7 linked regions of the Homo sapiens genome follow. The protein of the gene in region 1 purifies or fractionates together with the protein of each later gene. This does not show direct contact. Each region holds a gene or a part of one and is shown in the gene's direction. Other genes may lie near its edges.

Region 1 (3,500 bases):
CGAAAACCTGCATTTTCATTTCGTTCACAAGAGAATTATGAGACTAGAAAAACAACAATTCTTAGTATACCACAGACTGTGGTGCCTAGGAATAACAGACAAGCTTTAACTCACACGATGAGCATCTTTATTTAGCTCTGCTTTTAGATATCTGCATGATAAAGATGAGTGATCCAACGTTAGAAATCATCTGGACATTAAAACTGAATTGTAGGCAGGCGTGGTGGCTCACACCTGTAATCCCAGCACTTACGGAGACCAAGGCGGGCAGATTGCTTGAGCTCAGGAGTTTGTGAGACTAGCCTGGGCAACATAGTAAGACCCCTATCTCTACAAAAAATATAAAAATTAGCTAGGCATCATGGCCTGTGCCTGTAGTCCTAGCTATTGAGGAAACTGATGCAGGAGGATCATTTGAGCTCAGGAGTTTGAGACCATTCTGGGCAATACGGTGAAACCCTGTCTCTACAAAAAAATGCAAAGATTAGCTAGGCATGATGGCACATGCCTGTGGTCCCAGCTACTCGGGAGGCTGAGGCAGGAGGATTGCAGGAGGTTTGCTTGAGCCGGGGAGGTCGAGTCTGCAGTGAACTGAGATTGCATCACTGCACTACAGCCTGGGTGACAGAGTAAGACCCTATCTCAAAAAAAAGAACTAATTGTAACAAACTATCTTTCAAATTATATCAAAACAGTGATTCATAAATTCCATGTTGCCCAGAGATCATGAGGAGCTCTTCTATGATTTGACAGTGCAATTACTGAAGGGGAAGACACCATGCAAATACATGGTAAAAATATTCAAATTATTACTGATTTGACACAAAATATTGATGTAAATAACATAAAACTGTAATATGCCATTATGATGACATTAATGAAAAATTGGTTAATGAATGTCATTGAAAGAGCATGTACATCACTAAATGTTCTTAGTCACTGAAAGTGTGAAATAGCCTCTAAACTCATATGTGGAAAAAGAACTTGAAAAAGGTTTCCAGAAATGTGACAATTCTAGTACTTTCATGACATTTTAAAAAAGGGATTGTAAAGACTGATGAAACCCTTAAAACCTCTCAAGAATTAAAAATCATTTTTGATCAACAGAGTAAACTGATTTTTTATCTCTGTTGAAAGATATTTTTAAAATCATTGTCCTATGGAAAAGTCATATAGAACGTTTGCTGTTTAATGTAGCACAGATGTATCAAAAAGCCATGCCAGGCAGTTATAGATATCTTAGTTTTCTGGATTTTGTGACGTTTGTGGTATTTGTCAGATTTTTAAAATTTGTGATTTGTTGGGATTTGTTCCTCATTCACAGGTAATTTTATATACTTTTGTATTCACTTTCGAAAAGAAGGCAACTCTAAATTTTATGAACTTCAAGTGCTATAAAACAATTACCACAGTAAATTTTGAAAAATTCACCCCAAAAAGAAACCTTGTATCCATTGGCAGTAACTCCCTATGCTCCGCCATTCCTCTCAGCTCCCTGTCTGGCAACCACTTCCTGTCTCTTCAGAGTTGCCTCTTCTGGACATTACATATAAACGGAATTATACACTATGTGGCCTTTTATGACTGGCTTCTTTCACTTAGCATAATGTTTTCAAGAGTCATCTGTGTTGTAGCATTTGTCAGTACTTCATTTATTTTTGTTTCCTAACAATACTCCATTGTAGGGATTGACCACACTTTATCCATTCATTGGTTGATGGACATTTGGGTTGTTTCCACTTTTTCTGCTGTTGTGAATAACAGTGCTAAGCACATTCATATGCAGTGTTTGTGTAGATATATAATATGCTTTATTTTCTCTTGAGTACATAAAAGTGGAGCCTCTGAGTAATATAATAACTCTATGTTTGGTGTTTTGAAGAATTGCTAAATTGTTTTCCAAAGCAGCTGCACCATTTTATATCCCTACCAGCAATGCATGAAGCTTCCAGTTTCTCCACATCATCACGAATACTCCTTATTCTCTCTCTTTTTAGATATAGACATTCTGGCAGGTGTGACATTGTATCTCTTGTGGTTTAGATTTGCATTTGGAGCATGTCTTATGTGCACTTAAAAATATTAATATCTATTCTGCTGTTGTTGGGTAAACTGTTCTATAGATGTTGATATGGCTTCGCTGTGTCCCCACTCAAAATCTCATCTTGACTTGTAATCCCCATAATCTCCATGTGTCAAGGGTGGGACCAGGTGGAGGTAATTGGATCATGAGGGTGGTTTTCCCTACTCTGTTTTCATGATAGTGAGTCTCACAAGGTCTGATGGTTTTATAAGCATCTGGCATTTCCCCTGCTTGCACTCAGGCTGTCCTGCCACACTGTGAAGAAGGTGCCTTGCTTCTCCTTTGCCTTCTGCCATGAGTGTAAGTTTCATGAGGCCTCCCCAGCCATGCTGAACTGTGAGTCAATTAAACCTCTTTCCTTTATAAATTACCAAGCTGCGGCTATTTCTTCATAGCAGTGTGAGAACGGACTAATACAGGTGTTTTTTAGGTCTTGTTATTGTGTCGTTCACGTCTTTTATTTCCTTGTTGATCTTACTCTTAGTTGTTCTATCCATCATTGAAAATGGGGCATTGGCCAGGCGTGGTGGCTCACGCCTGTAATCCCAGCACTTTGGGAGGCCAAGACCAGCAGATCACTTGAGGTCAGGGGTTCGAGACCAGCGTGGCTAACATGGAGAACTCCTGTCTCTACTAAAAATACAAAAATTAGTCAGGTGTGGCAGTGCGTGCCCGCCTATAGTCCCATCTACTTGGGAGGCTGAGGCAGGGGAATTGCTTGAACCCTGGAGTCAGAGTTTGCAGTGAGCTGAGATCATGCCACTGCGCTCCAGTCTGGGTGACAGAGTGAGACTCAAAAAAGAAAAAAAAAAAAAAAAAAAAAAAGAAAGAAAATGAGACATTGGATTTGTAAGTTTCTGACAGGTTCATTTTGCCTGCTGCCCAGATAGAGCCGATTTATGAGGACAGGGAAATTGCAATAGAGAAAGAGTTTAATACATGTAGAACTGGCTAAACAAGAGACTGGAGTTTTATTATTACTCAAATCAGCCTCCACAAAAATTTGGAGGCTAGGTCTTTTCAAAGATAGTTTGGTGGGCAGGGGTTTGTGTACTAAGAAACTAAATGTTTCTTGTGTACTAAGTCAGCTTCTGGGTGGGGGCCAGAGGACCAGTTGAGCCAAGAATTCAAGAGGTACAGGTTCAAGTAGGGCCATCTGGTTGTCAGAAATGCAAAAGCCTGGAAAGTCATCTCAAATGTTAGGTTCTACAATAGTCAAGTTATTTATAGTAATTGGGAAAGTTGCAAATCTTGTGACCTCTGTAGAAAATAGGTGGTAATCTTTACACCTATATCTTAGTAGAATTCAGGCCCCTCACTTCCTCCTAACCTGGTAGCCTTTCATTAGTTTTACAAAGGCAGTTTAATTTTGGGGGGCAGGGCTATTATCATCTAAACTATAAACTATAATCGTTTG
Region 2 (3,500 bases), on another chromosome or scaffold:
ATTAGCATATTGTCTGGCACATTATAGGCATGTGCTTGTTAAATACAGTTTCAAAGCTGAGTGAACTGTGTTTTAAATTAGAGTACTGGCCGGGCGCAGTGGCTCATGCCTGTAATCCCAGCACTTTGGGAGGCCAAGGCGGGCGAATCACGAGGTCAGGAGATTGAGACCATCCTGGCTAACACAGTGAAACCCCATCTCTACTAAAAGTACAAAAAATTAGCCGGGCGTGGTGGTGGACACCTGTACTCCCAGCTACTCGGGAGGCTGAGGCAGGAGAATGGCGTGAACCCGGGAGGCGGAGCTTGCCGTGAGCCGAGATCGCACCACTGCACTCCAGCCTGGGAAACAGTGCAAGATTCCATCAAAATAAAATAAAATAAGATGAGATGAGACAAGATAAGATAAAATAAAATAAAATAAATTAAAAAATAGTAAAATAGGACGATTCTCAATCTGTGTTCCAAAAGAAGTTAATAAAAAGTTCCCATGGTCAAGTAAGTTTGGAAAGTTTGAGTTAAATAAGTCACTCTGCTACAGGACTTCTCAGAGTTATTCATGATCGAATGTGAATTTCTAGCAGGAGAATATGCTATACAGCATTTCTCAAACTTAATAACACTTTGAGGAGCATAGTTTGAGATCTGGTGGCTTAGGGTTTTACGAATAGAGAAGAGAGAATAGTATATAGGGATGTCTTTGTTTAAATGGGAGGGCCCTCCAGATTTAGACTTGAAGTTTTAGGAAATTGCTGTAATAAGATTTTTCCTTAGGATCTAGGGTGACCGATATCTTGGCTAGGCAAAACTTAGAGGAAGGTAGACCAGGTATGGTGGCTTATGCTTGTAATCCCAGCACTTTGGGAGGCTAAGGCAAGAGGATCACCTGAGGCCAGGAGTTCAAGACCAGCCTGGCGAACATGATGAAACCCCATCTCTACTGAAAATACAAAAATTAGACAGGCATGTTGGTGCACGCCTGTAATCCCAGCTACTCAGGTGGCTGAGGCATGAAAATCGCATGAACCCGGGAGGCACAGGTTGCAGTGAGCCGAGATCGTGCCACTGTACTCCAGCTTGGGCTTGGGCTGGAGTGTAGTAGTGCGATCTCGGCTCAATGCAACCTCCGCCTCTGTCTCAAAAAAAGCAACTTAGAGGAAGGTAAAGTTATTTGCCCATTTTCTTTTTTTTTTTTTTTTTTGAGACGGAGTCTCGCTCTGTCGCCCAGGCTGGAGTGCAGTGGCGGGATCTCGGCTCACTGCAAGCTCCGCCTCCCGGGTTCACGCCATTCTCCTGCCTCAGCCTCCCAAGTAGCTGGGACTACAGGCGCCCGCCACTACGCCCTATTTGCCCATTTTCTAATTGTAGTAGACCAAAGGCATAAGATCAGAGTTGTAAATGTAATCTCGCTTTAGCTAGTAGTTTCCCAGTGACATCCTCTAAAATCTCTTAATACTGCCAACAGAGAAGCCAAGACCTTTTATGGTTTGGGAGGTGCTGGGAAGCTGAAGAATGAGAGATTGAGTTAATCTACAGAAATTTCTATTTTAGGAACACAGGAAGGGAGAGAAGTTCTGAAATTGCTTAAACAAGTTCCAGTTAGTTCCTTCTTGCTGAAGTATGAGTGAAACGGTTCTATTTATTATCTACTGTAGTAATCCAGTAGTTTGTTTGACTGTGGTGACTTGGTGTTAACATTTTTTTTCTTCTAAATTTTAGAACAAGCACTGGTTAATTAGGCAAGCCAAGACTCCAATGACTAATTCTTCAATACAGTTTTTAGATAATGCATTTAGGAAAAGGTAAGAGCTGCTGCTACATAACAATCTGAGTGGTTTTAAAGACCCTGCAAATCAGCTCATGAAGAGGAGACCACACCACATTGTTGTCTCTGAAACAAAAACAGAGGGAAGCAAGTCAGTGGGAGAGAGGCTTCGATGGGGCACCAGAAGCAGAGAGATTCCTTTACACTCAAATGAATGAGGTGGCATTTGGACCCCAGTACTAATTAGACTGCCCATTTTTAGGACTTGGCAAAAGTCTTGCAAACTTGAACCATGTGGTAGAATTTTTTCTCCTGCTTTAAAGAAAAGGTGACTTGGTTGAGAGAGCCCATTGTCATATGTGACAAATGACCCAAAAGCTTAGACAAGATCAAAATATCTGCCTTTGCCATTTGGAATTTTCAAGAAATTCTCTTAAGTCAATTTTTAAAAATCCATTACTTTCTCTTAGGAAGTGTTTAGTGTAGACCAGGGATAAGCAAACTTTTTCTGTAAAGGGGCAGATAGTAAATATTAATAGGCTTGCAGGTCATACATTCTGTCACAACTACTCAGCTCTGCTGTTGTAGCACAAAAGCAGCCCTGGGTAACATGTAAATGAATGAGCATGGTTGTGGTCCAATAAAACTTTATAAAAACAGACAGTGGGCAAGCTTTGGCCCATGAGTCATAGCTTGCCAGCTCCTAGTTCAAACATCTTAAGCTTTTTTGTAGCACAGTCCTATCTGAATTAATCTGTAATACACAGTACTGAGAATGGACAACTCTTCCTTCCGATTGTCTCTACTCTCATCACTATTGCCAATAAAAAGTAAAGCTAACTGGTTATTTAAAAACGAGTTTATTTCTTTGGAAACAATTAACTTTGGAATGAATTAATTATGTTCTGGAATTTTCTAATCTGTTTTTTACAATGGGAAGGTCTAGGGAATGGAGATTGGGGATTTGAGTTTTGGGGGAGAGTGTTTTGCAATTTTTTTTTTTTAAACGGGGGTTGTTTTGGATTTTTTTTTTTAAACGGGGGTGTCTTTGTTTTTGTTTTTGGTTTTTTTTTTTTTTGGCAAGATAGTGATACCTCAGCCATTGCCCCTGAAGTCCCATTTCTACCTTCTGTTCACATCCAGGTGGCAAACTCTCCTCTCAGTTGATGACCTTGTGGAGAAACTGGTCAAGAGGCTGGAGTTCACTGGGGAGCTCAACAACACTTACATCTTCTATACCTCAGACAATGGCTATCACACAGGTCAGAGGCAGGAGTAGGTACTGCTGTGATCTTTGAGAATATGTCTTTCCTTTTTCACCCAATGAGCCCTGGGAGGGAGTTCTAGTCTTTTTATAACTGTGGACATGCCAGAGGGAGGATCTTGCCCTCAGGACCCCTCCAGTTGGAGCACCACATCATACCCACGTGGAGAAACCAGGTTTCATTATTTGCTGTTTCACATGCAAGATGACATGGTGTTCTAGGAGTGGGAGCAGAGCATGAGCTTGATGGGTTGGAGGCAGGCCGTATGGAAGGCATTTGAGATAGGAAGACCAAAAGGAGGTTGTCTTGGGAAAACTTTCTTGCCATTCATGGAATTTGTTTTTTGGGTGTTTTTGTTTTTTTCAAAAGCTGCAGGATGAGTCAGCTCTGTGTCCTTGACTTTCATGCTTTCTGCTTGGACCTTCTGTTGTTAAAAGCAAATGTTTTCTTCTTTCCACATATATAAATGTC
Region 3 (3,500 bases), on another chromosome or scaffold:
GTTCAAGCGATTCTGCTGCCTCAGCCTCCCGAGTAGCTGGGATTACAGGCATGCACCAATGCACCACCATGCCCGGCTAATTTTTGTATTTTTAGTAGAGACAGGGTTTCATCATGTTGGCCAGCCTGGTCTCGAACACCTGACCTCAGGTGATCTGCCTGCCTCGGCCTCCCAAAGTGCTGGGATTACAGGCATGAGCCACGCGCCCAGCCTGTCAAACTTATTTGACCACAACCCATAGCAAGAAACATTTTACCTTGTGCTCAAATACACATATCTGTAGGCAAAACAAAATAGAAAAAGGAAAATACAATCTGGTGGAACAGCCCCTCCCCTTAACTTGCAGGGGAATGTGGCCTGGAGCAGCTTTTCTGAGGTAGGATTGGCCAGCTCCATCAGAGTTTGTTTGTTCTGATGCATAATAGATATACATAGTTTCAGGGCACATGTGATAATTTAATACATCATATAATTTGTAAAGATTAAATCAGTATTTGCGATAGCCATCACCTTAAATATTTGTTTTCTTTTTAAATGCTGAATCTTTTGAATTCTTCTAGCTGTTTTGAAATGCACAATAGTTAATGGTGAACTCTAGTCACCCTACCAGGTCTTATTTCTTCTATCAAACAGTATATTTGTATCCATTAATCAACATATTTTCATCCCCCCTTCCAACGTACAGAGATGGGCAGTCCAATAGGGAGGTTTATTAAACAAACACAAATTAAGTCACATTCATATAATGGGATACTTTGTAAATATCTTAAAAGATAAAACATTCAATTACAGTTACTAATATGAAAAATTTTTTTTCAAAAGCTGAACACGGCCAGGCGGCCAGGCGCAGTGGCCCTTGCCTGTAATCCCAGCACTCTGGGAGCATGAGGCAGGAGGATTGCTTGAGCTCAGGAGCTCGAAATCAGCCTGTGCAATTTGTCTCAAACAAACAAACAATAGCAAAAGAGCTGAACACAAACTAGTAGATGACATGATACCATTTCTGAAATAAAATATTCATATATGGACACATCATCTATAAACTGCATTTCAAACAATTTTTATACTAAGATCTTAATAGTGATTATTTCTGGGTGACAGTTGAGTGCTGTTTTTACTTCTGTACGTCTTTATATTTAAAAGAATGAGCATCCCATATATACATAAATATATATATAAATCCCACATATAAATATATACATAAATCCCATATAAAAATATAAATATATATATATATATATACACACACACACACACACACACACACACATATATATATATTTTTTTTTTCCTGAGACAGAGTCTTGCTCTGTCACCCAGGCTGGACTGTGATGGTGTGATCTCGGCTCACTGCAACCTCCACCTCCCGGGTTCAAGTGATTCCTGTGCTTCAGCCTCCTGAGTAGCTGGAATTACAGGCACACACCACCATGCCCAGCTACTTTTTGTATTTTTAGTACAGACAGGGCTTTGCTGTGTTGGCCAGGCTGGTCTCGAACTTCTGGCCTCAAGTTATCCGGCTGCCTCAGCCTCCCGAAATCCGGGGATTACAGGCATAAGTCATTGCGCCTGGCTCCTTATATGATTTTAAAACGGCAGGATATAAGGAGCAATGGAATGAAGCCAGTGGGACTGCAGAAGGCAGGTGGAAGCAGACAGGGAACTTTGGAGCTAGAGTGACTTGAAGGACGCTTGATGGATATAATTGTAAGAGTCCTGTCTCAGGAGAGCTGATGCGCTGTAAATGTTGTAAATAGAACATTTTCTTAAAGAACCTTCCACTGCTATGTTTAGTATTCAGTTTAGCAAACTTTTCCTGGGTAGCTACTGGGAGTCCCGCACAGTGTTAGGAGTTGGGGTACACACCTGCCATGTTGGTGGAAATCCTGAAGGGAGTGGGCCACACACCCTGGAAGAAGGGGCTTTCCTGAGGAAGGACAGCCTGACTATGCAGGGGTCATTCCACATTACCAGAGCTTGTTCCAGAGAGGCAGTGGGAGGCTCCACAGGCAGGCTTGGAGGGTGCTTGGCCCTAATACTAAATGTTGGACTTCATGGCATTAACGAAGGGGAATCACTGGAGCCTTTTAGTATGAAGCTAATCTTTTTGTCCATCACAGGCAACTTCTTGCCTACACTCTTTTACAATATGGCATTTATGACATAGCCAAGAGCGAAGACACGTTGAACACTGACTTAATGCTTTGAGTAGGTGGAGAGTTGAATGACTCAAGGCTACTTCTCTAGAGATTAATTTGAAGCTAGAAAGTAACATTTATTTCTGTTTTCTGTGACAGCAATAGGCTTCAGCTTGTAATCGTCATCTGCAAGTAGGTACTTGACACCTCCCCTAAGTGACCTGGAGAGTGACAGATACAGTAATGGGCACAATCCTTGGTTTTTTGTTTTGTTTTGTTTTTGAGACAGAGTCTCACTCTGTCATCCAGGCTGGAGTGCAGTGGTACGATCTCACTCACCAGGGATTTGGCCACCACGCCTGGCCGAATCCCTGGTTTTAAGCAAAATTTTAATATGGAGTTTATGGTTGTTGGTATAATGAAATGCGGCACCATAGCAGTTGATTTTTGTCTTTCAGAACCACACTGGCTTTTTGTATTATTTCAAATTTGATAGATGCCCAATGTATGTAACAAAAATTTTCCCTCACGTGTATTTCTTTCTTTATTTATTTGTATGTTTTGAGATGGGGTCTCACTCTGTCGCCCAGGCTGAAGTGCAGTGGTGCTATCTCGGCTCACTGCAACCTCCACCTCCCAGGCCCAAGCCATCCTCTCACCTCAGTACTGGGTAGCTAGGATTACAGGCCCCGCCACCAGGCCTGCGTAATTTTTTTGTTTTTTGGGAGGCCAAGGCAGGAGGATAATTTGAGCTCAGGAGTTTGAGACCAGGCTGTAACCCCAGGCAGGAGTACAGTGGTGCAGTCATAGCTCACTGCACCCTTGACCTCCTGGGCTCAAGCCATCTTCCCACTTCAGCCTCCAAGTAGCTGGGACTACAGGTGTGTGCCACTATGCCTGGCTTATTTTTTGTAGAGATGGGGTTTGGCCATGTTGGCCAGCCTGGTGTCAAACTCCTAAGCTCAAGGGATCCACCTGCCTCAGCCTCCCAAAGTGCTGTGCTGGGATTACAGGCGTGAGCCACCACACCCAGCCCAAGTATATTTATCGAGTGCTGTATGTCATGATAGTGGGTGGTTTGGGGGAATACCAACATAAATAAGTGGGAGGTTTCTATCCTAGAGGAGTTTATTGTGCTCTGTTCTCTCTGGATTGTTCACAAACCAGAATGCCGATCAAAGACTTTGCTAGGGTTGTGGGTGGGCGACTTGCTCAGGAGATCCCTGGCACCCAAATGAGTGCCCAGAAATCACTCTGAATGGTCAAAAGTAAGGCAGGGCAGGGCGGTAGAGCACAGGGTGTCGAATTAATTTCATGTGGGGGCTGAAATCCCAGGTCTGTCCCTTCCTAACTGTGGGCTGC
Region 4 (3,500 bases), on another chromosome or scaffold:
TAAGTTCTCCTGTTAAGTTGTTAGCGAGAGTTTTATTAACCCAGTCTTGTGATAGAACTTCAGATGTCTCACATTTACTTGGGGTGCTTCTCATTGTTTCCTCATTTTTACTCTTCATTTTTATTTTATGTAAGCATAAGCCGGTTGAATTCCAGCTTTTCTTTTAAATTTAACACACTGATTTTCTGTTAATTATAACCATAGAAAGTACGTTTCTTAGGGACTACTTTTTTTTTTTTTGAGATGGAGTTTCGCCCTTGTTCCCCAAGCTGGCATGCAATGGCACAATCTCAGCTCACTGCATCCTCCGCCTCCCAGGTTCAAGCCATTCTCTAGCCTCAGCCTCCCGAGTAGCTGGGATTACAGGCATGCATCACCATGCCTGGCTGATTTTGTATTTTTAGTAGAGACGGGGTTTCTCCATGTTGATCAGGCTGGTCTCGAACTCCCGACCTCAGGTAATCCATCCACCTCGGCCTCCCAAAGTGCTGGGATTACAGGCGTGAGCCACTGCACCTGGCCTTTAGGGACTACTTTTGACCTAAATATTAAAATTAATTTCAACTAGGACTAATCAGCCTTTTTTCCTACTGGATATAATTTAAAAGTTAAACATTTTTAAGGAGATGACCTTTGTGGCCATTTTGAATAGTTGGCAAGTAGAATGTCTGTCTGAGAGGTATAAATAATTCAGTCTTCAGCCTAAGAATAAAATTGTAGTGGCCAAGACTCTGAAATGGAAAAGTAAACTGAAAACCAGAATCTTGTATCTGGAATAAATTTTGATTACCTAAGAAAGTAGTTTTAAATTTTATGAAAGCAGCTGAGCCCTTTTCTTTCTAAAGTAAATTATATGTAGACTACTAATATATAAAACCAATAAGCAGAAATTTTATATGCATAGAACCCTGGAACTCTAACATAGATCAAACTGATTTATTTGTACTGTTTAATTTTATAATAAGAAAACTTGGAGTGGAATGTGATTTAGGCAACACGTTTGGTGGCACAAATAGAATTAGAATCCAGGTGTTCTAATTCTTAGCCCAGCATTCTTTCTAAAACAACATACTCTGAACATTAGAAATCATTTGAGCAAAAAAAGTAATCATGAATAGAGAAAAAAGTCAAGTCATTTCAAAGTTTTGCAAGTGATTTAAAGTTCTCTTTTGAGACATTTTGTCTAGGAGCAAATGTGAGTGCATTAGGAGTCTGGGCTTTATTCCAGAAGCCATGAAAATAGATCAGTGTCTATTATTTTTCTTAAAGGGAGAAGACACCATATTGTACTCTCAGATTTTATTTTCTATATAGACAGGAATGCAAGCATCAATTAAAAGATGATTGTTCAGAGAGATTTTACCAGTCAGTGATAGTAATTAGAAATAAGTAGTGAGTTGTAGTATGAGTAATAAGTTGTGGCTTTGTGCAGAGATGTAGTGGCTTTTTATTCAGGATTGTGTCTCCAGATGTAGTTGGAGAGTGTGTCTTCTAATTGCTTGCTGCATAAATGCCTGTCAAAACTCAGAAGGCAGTTTATGGAGAGTATATTGATGGATATGAAATCTAATTCATTCCTTTGTACTAAACTGTACTTGAATGAAGATGTTTATGTAGACCACATTATTTTGACCTTTGATAACATTGCTTTTACTGAAAGATACTTTGAATTTATGCAGCCCCTCTGTTTGGAGGAACATTATAAGAAACCATCCTGCCAGGCGTGGTGGCTCATGCCTTTAATCCCAGGACTTTTGGGAGGCTGAGGCAGTTGGATCACCTGAGGTCAGGAGTTCGAGACCAGCTTGGACAGCATGGTGAAACCCCATCTCTTCTAAAAATACAAGAAATTAGCTGGGTGTGGTGGTGCACACCTGTAATCCCAGCTACTCAGGAGGCTGAGGTGGAAGAATCATTTGAACCTGGGAGGCGGAGGCTGCAGTGAGCCAAGATCACGCCACTGTACTCCAGCCTGGGTGACAGAGTGAAAGTCTGTCTTCAAAAAAAAAATATCCTAAGAAACTTGTTGCTATGTTAAAAATCTTACGGTTTGAAATTCTGGAATATTGCAAACATTTAGAATATAGCAGAGATGAACATTACTCTCATATGTCTACCACCCAGATTTGACAAAAGTTAACATTTAAAAAAAATTACTGAAAATCCTTTAAAGTTACAAAAGGTACATTACAGGTGTAGATGAAGACTGCAACTCTTTTTTTTTTTTTTGAGATGAAGTCTCACTCTGTCACCCCGGCTGGAGTGCAGTGGTGCATCTCGGCTCACTGCAGGCTCCGCCTCCTGGGTTCACGCCATTCTCCTGCCTCAGCCTCCTGAGTAGCTGAGACTACAGGCGCCTGCCACCACGCCCGGCTAATTTTTTGTGTTTTTAGTAGAGACGGGGTTTCACCCGTTGGCCAGGATGGTCTCGATCTCCTGACCTCCTGATCCTCCCAACTCGGCCTCCCAAAGTGCTGGGATTACAGGTGTGAGCCACCACGCCTGGCCGAAGACTGCAACTCTTTATTCCATTTACCCATCTCCCTATAGTTAAAATGTGCTCCTAAAGTGGATGTGGATCTTTTCAGTTTTTATTTCTGTGATTTTATGTGTATATAAATTCATAAAGAATACTTAGCTTTGTTTGTGTTTCAGTGTTTTACAAAAATACTAGCACATATATTTTTGTAACTTGGCTTTGTGTAATCAACATTATATTTGATACTTATTGATACCTGAGTATTTTTAAAACTATGGGAATATACAACAAGTTTATCTTTTCTTCTATGAAAAGACTTTCACCTTGGGCCAGGCACAGTGGCTCATGCCTGTAATCCCAGCATTTTGTGAGGTTGAGGTGGGAGGATCTCTTGAGCCCAGGAGTTTTAGACAAGTTTGAGCAACATAGTGAGACTCCCTCTCTACAAAATAATTTAAAAATTAGCTAGGAGTGGTAATGTGTGCCTGTGGTCCCAGCTACTTGGGAGGCTGAGGCGGGAGGACCTCTTGAGCCCAGGAGGTTGAGGCTGCAGTGAGCTGTGATCATTTCACTGCATTCCAGCCTGGGTGACAGAGTGAGACTCTATCTCAAAAGAAAAAGAAGACTTTCACCTTTCAGATTGTTTCCAATTATTTTTCACTAATCTCAACATTTTGACCACTGTCACAGAGTGATCAGGAAATGTGGTGGTGACCATATTGGTTCAGGACATATTTGAGTGCCTGCTGTATTCAAGGTGCTGTGCTGTGCTAGGACCATAGAACATGGATAGGTTTCCTGCCCTTAAGAAGTTTCCATTTCCATTTCCCTGAGATAGCCACTGTTGATGGAGTTTGGAGTATTTTTTTCTTTTTTGAGACGGAGTCTTGCTCTGTCGCCAGGCTGGAGTGCAGTGGTGTGATCTTGGCTCACTGCAACCTCCGCCTCCCGGGTTCAAGTGATTTCTCCTGCCTTAGCCTCGTGAGTAACTGGGACCGCCACCACACCCAGCTAAGTGCAA
Region 5 (3,500 bases), on another chromosome or scaffold:
CTGAGTTGATGCCATTCTCTTGCCTCAGCCTCCTGAGTAGCTGGGACTACAGGCGCCTGCCACAGCACCCAGCTAATTTTTTGTATTTTTAGTAGAGACGGGGTTTCACTGTGGTCTCGATCTCCTGACCTCGTGATCTGCCCGTCTCGGCCTCCCAAAGTGCTGGGATTACAGGTGTGAGCCACCGCACCCGGCCAATTATCCCATTTTACAGATGAGAAAGCTGAGGCATAGAGGGTTAAAGTAACTTGAGCAAGGTCTTTCAACAATGACAGATCTGAAATTTGAGTGCATCTGATTTAGTTCCAGAGATTATGCTCTTTACCATCTTACGGACTTTTCTTGTAGTCTTTAGTATTACGGACTTTTAATTGAAATTTCTGATTAAGATCATTTATGTTCCTTGAGTTATTTATGTATTCACTATTATTTCTTCAAGATTATCCATTTTTTTTTCACCTGAGTCTTACCTCACCTTTTATCTTACCCTGACAGGAGACTGTTGGGCAGAGTACTTGATTTTTAAATGTGGTCTTTTGGGGCTTGTGTACTTGCAGTGTCCTGACGTTCGTTTGAATATCATCTCCAATTTGGATTGTGTAAATGAAGTGATTGGAATCCGTCAGCTCTCTCAGTCTCTCCTTCCTGCCATAGTGGAGCTGGCAGAAGATGCCAAATGGAGGGTCCGCCTGGCCATCATTGAGTATATGCCGCTGCTGGCAGGCCAGCTGGTGAGTATGTGTTGCTCCATGAACTGCAGGGTAGTGTCAGATAGTGACAATTTACCATGGCAAGTAGGAGGCCTAGTAGCCTGTATGCTTATGTTTGTTTAGATGCATGAAAGTATGGCCTTGTTCTTGTTACCTATAGGATGGTTTTTATGTTTGTTAGTGCATACGTTTCTTTTCTTTTAAGATGGAGTTTCACTGTTGTTGCCCAGGCTGGAGTGCAATGATGCAATCTTGGCTCACTGCAACCTCCACCTCCTGGGTTTAAGCGATTCTCCTGTCTCAGCCTCCCAAGTAGCTGGGATTACAGGAATATGCCACCACACCCAGCTAATTTTGTATTTTTAATAGAGATGGGGTTTTACCATGTTGGTCAGGCTGGTCTTGAATTCCTGACCTCAGGTGATTCACCCGCCTCAGCCTCCCAAAGTGCTGGGATTCCAGGCGTGAGCCACTGCATCTGGCCTATTAGTGCATACATTTCTAACAAAAAGGTATAGGTTGAGTATCCCTCATCTAAATACGCTTGGGACCAGCATGTTTGGGACCAGAAGTGGATTTTGGAATATTTGCATTATAAATATTTACTGGTTGAGCAGCCCAAATTCAAAAATGCAAAGTCCAGAATGCTCCAATGAGCATTTCCTTTGAGCATCATATCAGTGCTCAAAAAGTTTTGGATTTTGGAGCATTTCACATTTTGGATTTTTGGATTTGGGATGCTTAATCTGTATTACAGAAACATATTTCACCTCATCACCACCGAAAAACAAAGCCATAGAATAATCAGTTTCTTGGTATATATAATGTAAATTTTATAATATTTAATGCCTTTGTGACTTAAGAAATGTTTAACTGAGAAGAAAAGGGATTATGGTTTTAGGGTAAGTCTGCTGTGATTTTTGCTCAAGGAAACTTCCCTGTTTGCCTTGTATTCTAAGCAAAATGTCCCTAGGTACCACTTGCCCTACATTCTGATTAAAGGGAGTTGAGGAATCACCATATAGAAAAGAAGTATTGAAAGGCCGGGCACAGTGGCTGACACCTGTAAACCCAGCACTTTGGGAGCCAGAGGCAGGCGAATCACTTGAGGCTAGGAGTTCCAGACCAGCCTGGCCAACATGGTGAAACCCCATCTCTACTAAAAATACAAAAATTAGCTGGGCACGGAGGTGCACACCTGTAATACCAGCTACTCGGGAGGCTGAGGCAGGAGAATCGCTTGAACCCAGGAGGCGAAGGCTGCAGTGAGCCAAGATTGCACTACTGCACTGCAGCCTGGGCAACAGAGTAAAACTTTGTGTCAAAAAAAAAAAAACAAAACAAAAACAAAAACTGAAGCTTGTAATGTTAGTATTTTGGTCAAAGTCCACATTATCACATTATCTGTTACTGTTTGAGTTTCGTGATCAGTGTTACCCTAACTAATACCATGTTAGTTAAAATTTCAAAGCTGGGTTTTATAGCCACATCCTTTCCTTTTTTTGAGTAGGTGGCCTAGACAGTTCTAAGTTTGATGTACCTTCATCTCTGTTGGTAGCACTTATTACAGAGTATTGTAATTGTCTGTTACAGTCTAGTTGGAGAGATGGGTGATCTCTTTTAGGGCAGGGACTGTATTTTATTTCCAGTCCCTACCATAGTGCCCGTCATTAATTAGGCACTTAACATTTTTTATTTTGGGGGCAGGGTCTTGCTGTTGCCCAGGCTGGTCTTGAACTCATGGCCTCAAATGATCCTCCTGCCTCGGCCTCCTGAGTAGCTGATAATAGGCATGAGCCACTGTGTATAGCCAACATTTGTTGATTGTTGAGTATTTTTTGAGAAAGATGTGTCAGTTTACTATTGACATCGCTACAGTTTGTTTCCCCTTCCTCACTCCCACTTCCATTCCTTTCAGGTCACAACATATGGAATTTATTTTTTCTTGTCTTGAACCCCTGAATTTGTATTTTTAATTTTAGTACATTTAGTTTATGAACATGCAATTTGTGGATGTCTGTGGCATTATATGTTTTATAAAATTGAAAGTGTCCGATTCTTTGAAAAGTATACCAGAGGTATTAGTGCATGGCAAATGGGATCAGGTGAAGTTATTTTGTCATCCTTTTTGTCTGTCACTCCCAAGTGCTATGGGTCATCTTCTCTTCACTGGTGATTGTCATGGATCTACTTTTCAGAGTGGAGAGGAGCAGTGATTAACTGATTTGCTGAAGACCAAAACTATCTGGAAGGGAGGGTGCATTTTAGTACCATTTCTTTTAACCTCTGCTCCTTCTAGACCTGGAAAGTTTCCCAGGGTTGCTAGCTCTATAGAGAGCAGTGTGAAAGCAAGGCAGATGGTGTCTTTGGCTGACTTACACCTGTCTGGCAGGGGTGACATGCCTCAGTCATGAACATTTTGCTTTACAATTTTAACTTCTTGTTAGTATATATATTCTCCTTAATTTCTCTTCATATCTAAATATTTTTATATCAGATAGTCATTTTATAAAATTCTCTCAAGACTTTATGTATGACCTGGCTTGTGGACGATGTTAAGTAAGTGTAAAGTTAAACTACAAAAACCGGAAAATAGGCCAGGCGTAGTGGCTCACGCTTGTAATCCCAGCACTTTGGGAGGCCTAGGTGGGTGGATCACCTGAGGTCAGGAGTTTGAGCCCAGCCTGACCAACATGGTGAAACCCCATCTCTACTATACAAAAAATTTAGCCGGGTGTGGTGGTGGGTGCCTGTTACTTGGGAGGCTTCTTGGGAGGCTGAGGCAGGAGA
Region 6 (3,500 bases), on another chromosome or scaffold:
TGCCATATTGCCACCTTCTAAATAGTCTGTACATCAGCAGTGTACAAAGGTAGTGGTTTTTGTGTGACCTCAGCATTGGGCATTACTATTTTCAACACGGGTCTGCACCTGGCCCTTTTTAAGGCTTTGAGGAGATGGGATTCAGGAACTTGTGGGGTAGGCTAGGGGAGTTTGAAGCAGGGAGAACAGTTCTGTGCTTGGGGTACCCAGGAAGGAGAGTTGGGTAGCTGAAGTGAGGAGGCCATCAAACAGCCTTTACCTGCTTTTGAAATTTGCCGAAAGCAGCCCTCATCATGCCTGGCAAGAGGCATCCAGGAGAGCATTCAGAATTCACAGTGCTGCCTCAGCAGAAAAGTTTTATAATTTCCTTGAGTCAAGATCAGAATTATAGGCAGCAGCATTTCTTCCTTTGCAAAAGACTTCTCAGGTCTGTATTTAAGTGCATCTGTTTTAAAAATTCTGTTCTAAAGGCTGATGTCTTTCACTGAGAGTGATTCCTCTTGGGGCCAGCTCTATGGAGCTGACCTCCTGGCTCCTTGGCCTTAGGAACTGTAGCACACCCCTGGGAAATGCTGGAGTGCAGTCAGCCCACCGCCCAGTGGTGCAGGAGCTCGGAAGGGGGATCCTAAGCCCTAGGCTTCCTTGCTCTGTGCCACTGACATGCTGGGTTATGCTGGACAGATCACTTTCTATCTCTGCCCCTTGGTCTCCCCTTCCATGAAATCTGAATTACAGTGTGTTTTGCCCACTGAGCTATTGAGTCCAATAGCTTTTCATATGTGAAAGTGCTTTCCAAATTATAACGTGTTGCACAGGTCATCTGTACAGCATCTATTGGTTTTGCCTCCTTACAGTGTTGCAAATACATCACCCCCCAGATCCTATTGTGGGTTACTCTCATCTCTAGCTTAGGTTAGTGTGGCAGCCTCCAGACTTACTCTTTCAGTACAAAATACAGACCTCAGCTTGACATTGCCTTGCCCAAAGCCCTTGAGTGGGCCCCTCAGTCCTCTTGGTTCTGGCCTTGCATTCTACTTTGTCCTTCCCTGCACCCGGGCCTTGGGTCTATGAACTGCTTATTTCTCCCTGAGCGATGATTCCACTCTTTGTCCCACTGTCTGCCTCTCACCTGCCCATTGTGCTGCCTGGCATTTCTTTCCCTCCTTCTTACCATAGGTCAGTCACAATCAGTCTTAAAACATAAGGTTTTAAAACGGGTATTAGCCTTTGGGAAGCCAAGTTGGGGGTAGTGCCCCTCACCTGAGCCCCAACAGCCTGTGTTTCCCTCCCTTGTCCTTGATCACACTAAAATAAAATTGCTTATTTACTTTTCTGCTGAGAGTTTTTCTAGGGAATGGACTGGGCCTGGTCACTCTGTCTCCCTGGTGTCCCACAAAGGTGGGCTTGGCAGGACAGAGGCCCAGTGAAGATTTGAAGGAATGCTGTGTGTGTATGGATAAGTGAATGTGAGGGGCTTGACTGTATTCTCTTTCAGTTCTCTCTTGAATGCTGACAACAGTGAAACTAACAGTTCTCGTGTTTTGCATTTTGTAGATGGTGACAAATATCCCATGGAAAGTGATAATTCATTTGATCTGTTTGATTCCTCCCAGGCAGTGACACCAAAATCAGGTACAAAGCTGAAGTCCAGGTAACTGTGGGAGCATTGGATGTGACAGTAAGACTTTTTAACTTGCAGAAAAGGGGGGTCCCTGGTCCCAACTCAGGAGGGTATTTGGTAAGGATTTGGGATTTCAAGTTCTCAGCATCCCCAGCTGGTGATCTTCTCCTTCAAGCCAGTTAATCCACTCCTAGGTGTTACCAAGGTTAGAACATCATTGGGTCCCTCTTGCCTTAGATTAAAATTGTGACCACCTTTGTGAGGCTTTCAAGGCCCTCCAGGATCCAGCTCCAGTGGGTCCGTCCAGCCTTATCCCTTAACCTGGTGTAGCCACACAGGGGTCACCATCCTGCAGACAGGCCCACACTTTCCTCTCACTGTGACTTTTAGACCCCCTTTGTCCCACTCTTTGCCGGTAGAAGTCCCGTTTCCTCAAGACTCATCATGAATACACATTTCTCTGTGACATGCCTTTGCTGCTGTCCTTGGTCAGAATGACTCATCATTCGTGTAATTCTTGCTACTTGCTCAATCCAGTTCAAATGCTGCTCCTTCTCAGAAGCCTTCCCTGTTCTCTCCCTCCCTGCACAGATAATTGTTTTTTCTGGCTCTGGCCCTTCATCACTCTGCTGTTGCACCTTCTGCAGTGTCTGTGTTCTGATCAGACTGTGGGCTACTGGAATGCAGGCACCAGCTTGAGTCATCCTTGTGAATCTGGGGTCTTCTGCCGAGTGGGTGGTTGATAAGTGTTGGTTGAGTTGACTTGAGCCTCTCCTACAAGATGACTCATAAGCCCAGTGTGGGGTAATATACAGAGGTCCAGGAGCGTGCCTCTTTTCCCCTCTGGGCTTGTGTTGGGTGGCATTTGGGCACGAGGGCCTCTTCTAGCCCTCCTAGCTAGCTTCAACATCATAAGCGTCTTGAACGCAGAGTGTTACCTGAAACAGATTTTACATCCTACTTCTCATTTTACAGTTTCAGAGACTCCTCCACTCTCTGGGAATGACACGGACTCCCTCTCCTGCGACAGTGGCAGTTCGGCAACTAGCACTCCGTGTGTGTCCCGCCTGGTCACTGGCCACCACCTGTGGGCCAGCAAGAATGGCCGCCATGTCCTGGGCCTGATTGAGGACTATGAGGCCCTGCTCAAACAGATCAGCCAGGGACAGAGGCTCCTTGCTGAAATGGACATTCAAACCCAAGAGGCTCCCAGCTCCACAAGTCAAGAGCTGGGAACAAAGGTAACCTGACCACAGAGCTGGGGGGCACAAGCTGCTCCCTGGGAGTGTCGGTGGAAGGGGGAGGGGAGTCAAATGGCGCAGTTGTCCTCATTAGGACCCTGAGAAGAGGGACCAGGAAGTGTGGCCTCAGAGAGCTCAGAGGTCAGGTCCAGTGTGGGGAACTATTGGTGGTGGCTGTGTTTGGTGGGGTTTGTGCCTTGTGTTCCTGCAACTGCTCCATGGGCTCTGCTGTCTTGTTCCCATGACGGCCTCTGTACATCTGGTCTCTCATCCATTCTTCTCTCCATCTGCACCCTGGTGTGTCTGTCCATTCATCTGCCCATCCACCTGGCTGTCGCCCATTATGAAGTGGAATTACTAGTTCAAAGGTTGTGAACTTTTTAGGGCTCTTGATGATAACTGTTGCTCCATTACTTTGCAAAACAATTCTATCTCTGTTCATGAACGTTTGTCTCACTACATTTTTGTTTTTGTTGAGGTTTTGTTGTTGTTGTGTTTTTTTTATTTTGAGACAGGATCTAGCTCTGTCACCCAGGCTGGAGTGCAGTGGCGCGATCATGGCTCACTGTAGCTTCGACCCCACCTCCTAGGCTCAAGCAATCCTCCTGCCTCAGCCTCCCAAGTAGCTGTGACCACAG
Region 7 (3,500 bases), on another chromosome or scaffold:
CTCCTGGCAACCACTAAGCTGCTTTCGGTCTCTCTGGATTTGCCTACCCTGGGTATTTCATATAAATGGAAACATAGTATGTGGCCCTTTGTGATTGGCTCCATTCACTAAGCATAGTCTTTTAAGGTTCATCCACATTGTAGCATATGTCAGTGCTTTATTCCTTATTTTTTTAACCAAATAAAATTCAGGTGCTATCTGTTAGGAAAGTCTTATCGTTAAAGGTTGGTAATTTCTGAGAACCAAGTTTAGATTTATGTTCTGCAGTTTTTAACAGTCTTGAGGCAGTCTTTAATTCAGTTGCTGTGTGAATAATTTCATCTTTTTCTTTGGAAGAGACACCTGTGCATAGCAGATCATCTTCACCTATTCCTCTGACTCCTAGCAAGGAAGGGAGTGCTGTGTTTGCTGGCTTTGAAGGGAGAAGAACTAATGAAATAAACGAGGTAAAGAATGTTTGATGTTTGTTCCCAATGGTTCCTTTATTTGTGATTACTTCAATTCTATAGGTGGAAGTCAAGGTTCTTAAAGCATCATGTTGCTGCTATTACTGTAAACATTATCAAAATTGTACGTAATTTTATGCTTAACACTGTGGGTTTTGGTTTCTAAAGTGAGAAAATTGTTAGGATTCCAGCCCTACACTGACAATCATCTTTTAAATAAGTGCAATTATTGAAATACCAGTATTTTTACTTTATAGAACAGATGTCAATTTCCACAGAGGGCCAGAGGGTAAATACTTTCGGCTTTGTGGGCCATATGGTGTCTGTCAAGGCTACTTAACTCCAAAAGTAGCCACAGATAGTATGTAAATAAAATGAGTGTGCTATATTCCAATAAAACTTGATTTATGGACACTGAAATTTGACTAGCATTTAATTTTCATGTGTTTGAAAATTTTTTTTGTTTTTCAATCATTTAAAAATATAACATCCACTCTTAGCTTGTGGGCAATATAGAAACAGGCAGTAGTTGGGCGGGATGTGACCAGCAGGCTGTAGTTTGCTGACTCCTACTTTAAATCCCTGATTCCCCTCCATCATTAACAGTAATACCAATAGCCGTCCCTTCAGGGATGGGCTCTAGGCCACCACTGTGCCAGACACTTGAACCAAATACTTTGAATTCTCGAGATCAGCCTTGCCACCAGATTTCCACTTGATAGATGGGAAAACTTTTCATTTTAAAACTATTTTTAAGGCCCATTAGGTGATCTGTAGGTGGTGAGTTTGTCAGGGATTCTGAAGACGTCTCAGTTTATCAGCATATTCTGTGAACGTCTCCTAGGAGGTGAGATTTCCTCTTTTTTTAAGGTGAGTAGGAGTTGCACAAGGGAAAATGGCTTTGCTAGGCAAAGAACATTTTTTTCTTTTTTTGACACAGGGTCTCACTCTCATGCTGTCACCCAGGCTGCAGTGCAGTGGCAGGATGTTAGCTCACTGCAGCCTCTGCCTCCTGGGCTCAGGCGATCCTCCCACCTCAGCCTCCTGAGTAGCTGGAACTACAGGCTCATGCCACCATGGCCTGGCTAATTTTTGCATTTTTTTGTAGAGACTAAGTTTTGCCATGTTGCCCAGCCTGGTCACCAACTCCTGAGCTCAAGTGATCCTCCCGCCTCTGCCTCCCAAAGTGCTGGGGTTACAGGCATGAGCCACTGTGCCCAGCCTAGGCAAAGAGCACTTGATGATGGGAAGAGAAGTCACAAAACTTTCTTCCAGACGATAACTGTCTTCAGTAGTGTGTACCCTAAGGTCTCTTGAGAGACTGCTCAACTCTGCTGTTCCAGCAGGAAAGCCCTAAACAAAGGGACGTGGCTCTGCCATAAACAAAGGGGTGTGGCTCTGTGTGCTGCCCCCTTAATTCATTCATGGACACTGAGAATTTAATGTCATGTGATTTTCACATATCACAAAATATTATTCGTATGATTTTTTTTCCCCAACCATTTTGAACATATGAGCATGGGGCTGGATTTGGCCTAGGGGCTACAGTTGGCTGACCCCATAGAGAATCTAGAAAGCCTAATTTGTGTTATGATGATTGTTGAGGGTAGGTTAGGAAATCCCTAGTTCAAGCAGTCCCTGACATGCCCATTTTTCAGATAAGAATGCACTACGAATTTTATTATTGAGGGGAAATCGTGAATTTAAGGGGCATCTGAGTTGTCAAGTAAGGGCTATTCCCACTCCGGTCTGCAGTGCGAATGCGCCATCTAGTGGTTATAGGTACAGCTGCAACTTATAGTTTGAAAGTGCTTTCTGGGAAATGGTTGGGGTTCAGGCGGCTCTCACAAGGACTCATGAGACCTTCGTGGATTCCCACCTTCTTACGTACGTCTACCACCGTGTTTTTTGACCAGGGCTCTTTCTCTCAGTTCCAATCGCTGCTCCACAGTACTAGGGGCTGGTCTGGGCCAGCACATGCCAGTAAAGGTCCATCAATGATTCCCATGCATACCCCACTGGGAATCCCCCGACTAGAAACCTACCATTTTTCCCCGGAAAATGTGTCTTCATAAATAGAAGATTATAAACTGCCTTGAAACACAGAATTGAGTGAGTGAGATAGAGCCAGATGACCTGCTTTTGTACGTGCCAAGTGCTGTTCATGCCTCTGAGATTGCAAAGTCCTGTATGTTTCCTTTGAGTCACTTTCAGAATGGTTCCAAAGCTTCAGCTGTGTGCACTGGGCAGGTGCTGGGGATGCTGTAAAGATGCTGGAACGATCCCTTCCCTCAGTGCTCCACAGTGCAGAAGTGGGGCGCTGGGGGTGGAGACCTAGGCGAGAGTCTAGGCCTGTCTAGGCAGGGGCCAAAGTGAAGCTAGGCCTTTGTTCTGGATCCTTCAGGGCCACCTTGGTGCTTATTAGCTTCTGGCAGTTCCATGTTGTTAAACTGACTATATCAGTGTTTCTGAGTTTGTGGGGGCATCTTTCTTTCTGCTTTGTCTGCTGGTGGACTTCCTCCAGTCTGACTGTTTCCATATTGAATATGACGTCCCAAAAGCCAAAGTAGCAGCTCAGTAGAGTAGGCTCTGGTTCTATAATTTGCTGAAGTACTTTTACGGAAATTCATCAGAGAGTTTTGAAATGCAACTCTCCCTTTAACAAAAGCCCCAGGTCCACCCACAGTTCTGAAATTCAGAATGAAGACAAATCAGTTATCAGGTTTGAAGTCTATTTCAGTTGATTCAAGGGGTTAAAAGATTCAAATTCGTTTCCATAATGAATCTAACAGCAAGAAATTAAGGAATCTTGAAACAACAGTAATATTATTCAGAACATCTATGGATTACTTTTTAATGCTTCATTCTCTCTCTAGTGCAGCAGGATTTTCTTTTTTCTGGGTGGAGGGGAAGGGGGCCAGAGTTTCACTCTTGTTGCCCAGGCTGGAGTGCAGTGGCACAACCTTGGTTCACTGTAACCTCTGCCTCCTTGGTTCAGGTGATTCTCCTGCCTCAGCCTCCCAAGTAGCTGGGATTACAGGCGTCCACCACCAC

Evidence for each region.
Region 2: the proteins of CEP43 (region 1) and GNS purify together in Homo sapiens (affinity purification with mass spectrometry; one large-scale study listed by BioGRID and IntAct). This does not show direct contact.
Region 3: the proteins of CEP43 (region 1) and LYN purify together in Homo sapiens (affinity purification with mass spectrometry; 2 studies listed by BioGRID and IntAct, with this or other methods). This does not show direct contact.
Region 4: the proteins of CEP43 (region 1) and ESCO1 purify together in Homo sapiens (affinity purification with mass spectrometry; one large-scale study listed by BioGRID and IntAct). This does not show direct contact.
Region 5: the proteins of CEP43 (region 1) and PPP2R1B purify together in Homo sapiens (co-immunoprecipitation; 2 studies listed by BioGRID and IntAct, with this or other methods). This does not show direct contact.
Region 6: the proteins of CEP43 (region 1) and CDK5RAP2 purify together in Homo sapiens (co-immunoprecipitation; 2 studies listed by BioGRID and IntAct, with this or other methods). This does not show direct contact.
Region 7: the proteins of CEP43 (region 1) and MSL3 purify together in Homo sapiens (affinity purification with mass spectrometry; 4 studies listed by BioGRID and IntAct, with this or other methods). This does not show direct contact.

What each region holds. Positions count from the first base shown.
Region 1 is NC_000006.12:167,047,897-167,051,396, forward strand, and holds part of CEP43 (centrosomal protein 43), read left to right. Parts: 3' UTR 1-3,500. UniProt on the Homo sapiens protein: Required for anchoring microtubules to the centrosomes. Required for ciliation.
Region 2 is NC_000012.12:64,738,907-64,742,406, reverse strand, and holds part of GNS (N-acetylglucosamine-6-sulfatase precursor), read left to right. Parts: intron 1-1,718; coding exon 1,719-1,801; intron 1,802-2,907; coding exon 2,908-3,026; intron 3,027-3,500. UniProt on the Homo sapiens protein: Hydrolyzes 6-sulfate groups in N-acetyl-d-glucosaminide units of heparin sulfate and keratan sulfate.
Region 3 is NC_000008.11:55,886,335-55,889,834, forward strand, and holds part of LYN (tyrosine-protein kinase Lyn), read left to right. Parts: intron 1-3,500. UniProt on the Homo sapiens protein: Non-receptor tyrosine-protein kinase that transmits signals from cell surface receptors and plays an important role in the regulation of innate and adaptive immune responses, hematopoiesis, responses to growth factors and cytokines, integrin signaling, but also responses to DNA damage and genotoxic agents.
Region 4 is NC_000018.10:21,569,705-21,573,204, reverse strand, and holds part of ESCO1 (N-acetyltransferase ESCO1), read left to right. Parts: intron 1-3,500. UniProt on the Homo sapiens protein: Acetyltransferase required for the establishment of sister chromatid cohesion. Couples the processes of cohesion and DNA replication to ensure that only sister chromatids become paired together.
Region 5 is NC_000011.10:111,749,390-111,752,889, reverse strand, and holds part of PPP2R1B (serine/threonine-protein phosphatase 2A 65 kDa regulatory subunit A beta isoform), read left to right. Parts: intron 1-557; coding exon 558-731; intron 732-3,500. UniProt on the Homo sapiens protein: The PR65 subunit of protein phosphatase 2A serves as a scaffolding molecule to coordinate the assembly of the catalytic subunit and a variable regulatory B subunit.
Region 6 is NC_000009.12:120,402,168-120,405,667, reverse strand, and holds part of CDK5RAP2 (CDK5 regulatory subunit-associated protein 2), read left to right. Parts: intron 1-1,554; coding exon 1,555-1,632; intron 1,633-2,596; coding exon 2,597-2,862; intron 2,863-3,500. UniProt on the Homo sapiens protein: Potential regulator of CDK5 activity via its interaction with CDK5R1. Negative regulator of centriole disengagement (licensing) which maintains centriole engagement and cohesion. Involved in regulation of mitotic spindle orientation.
Region 7 is NC_000023.11:11,768,237-11,771,736, forward strand, and holds part of MSL3 (MSL complex subunit 3), read left to right. Parts: intron 1-336; coding exon 337-446; intron 447-3,500. UniProt on the Homo sapiens protein: Non-catalytic component of the MSL histone acetyltransferase complex, a multiprotein complex that mediates the majority of histone H4 acetylation at 'Lys-16' (H4K16ac), an epigenetic mark that prevents chromatin compaction.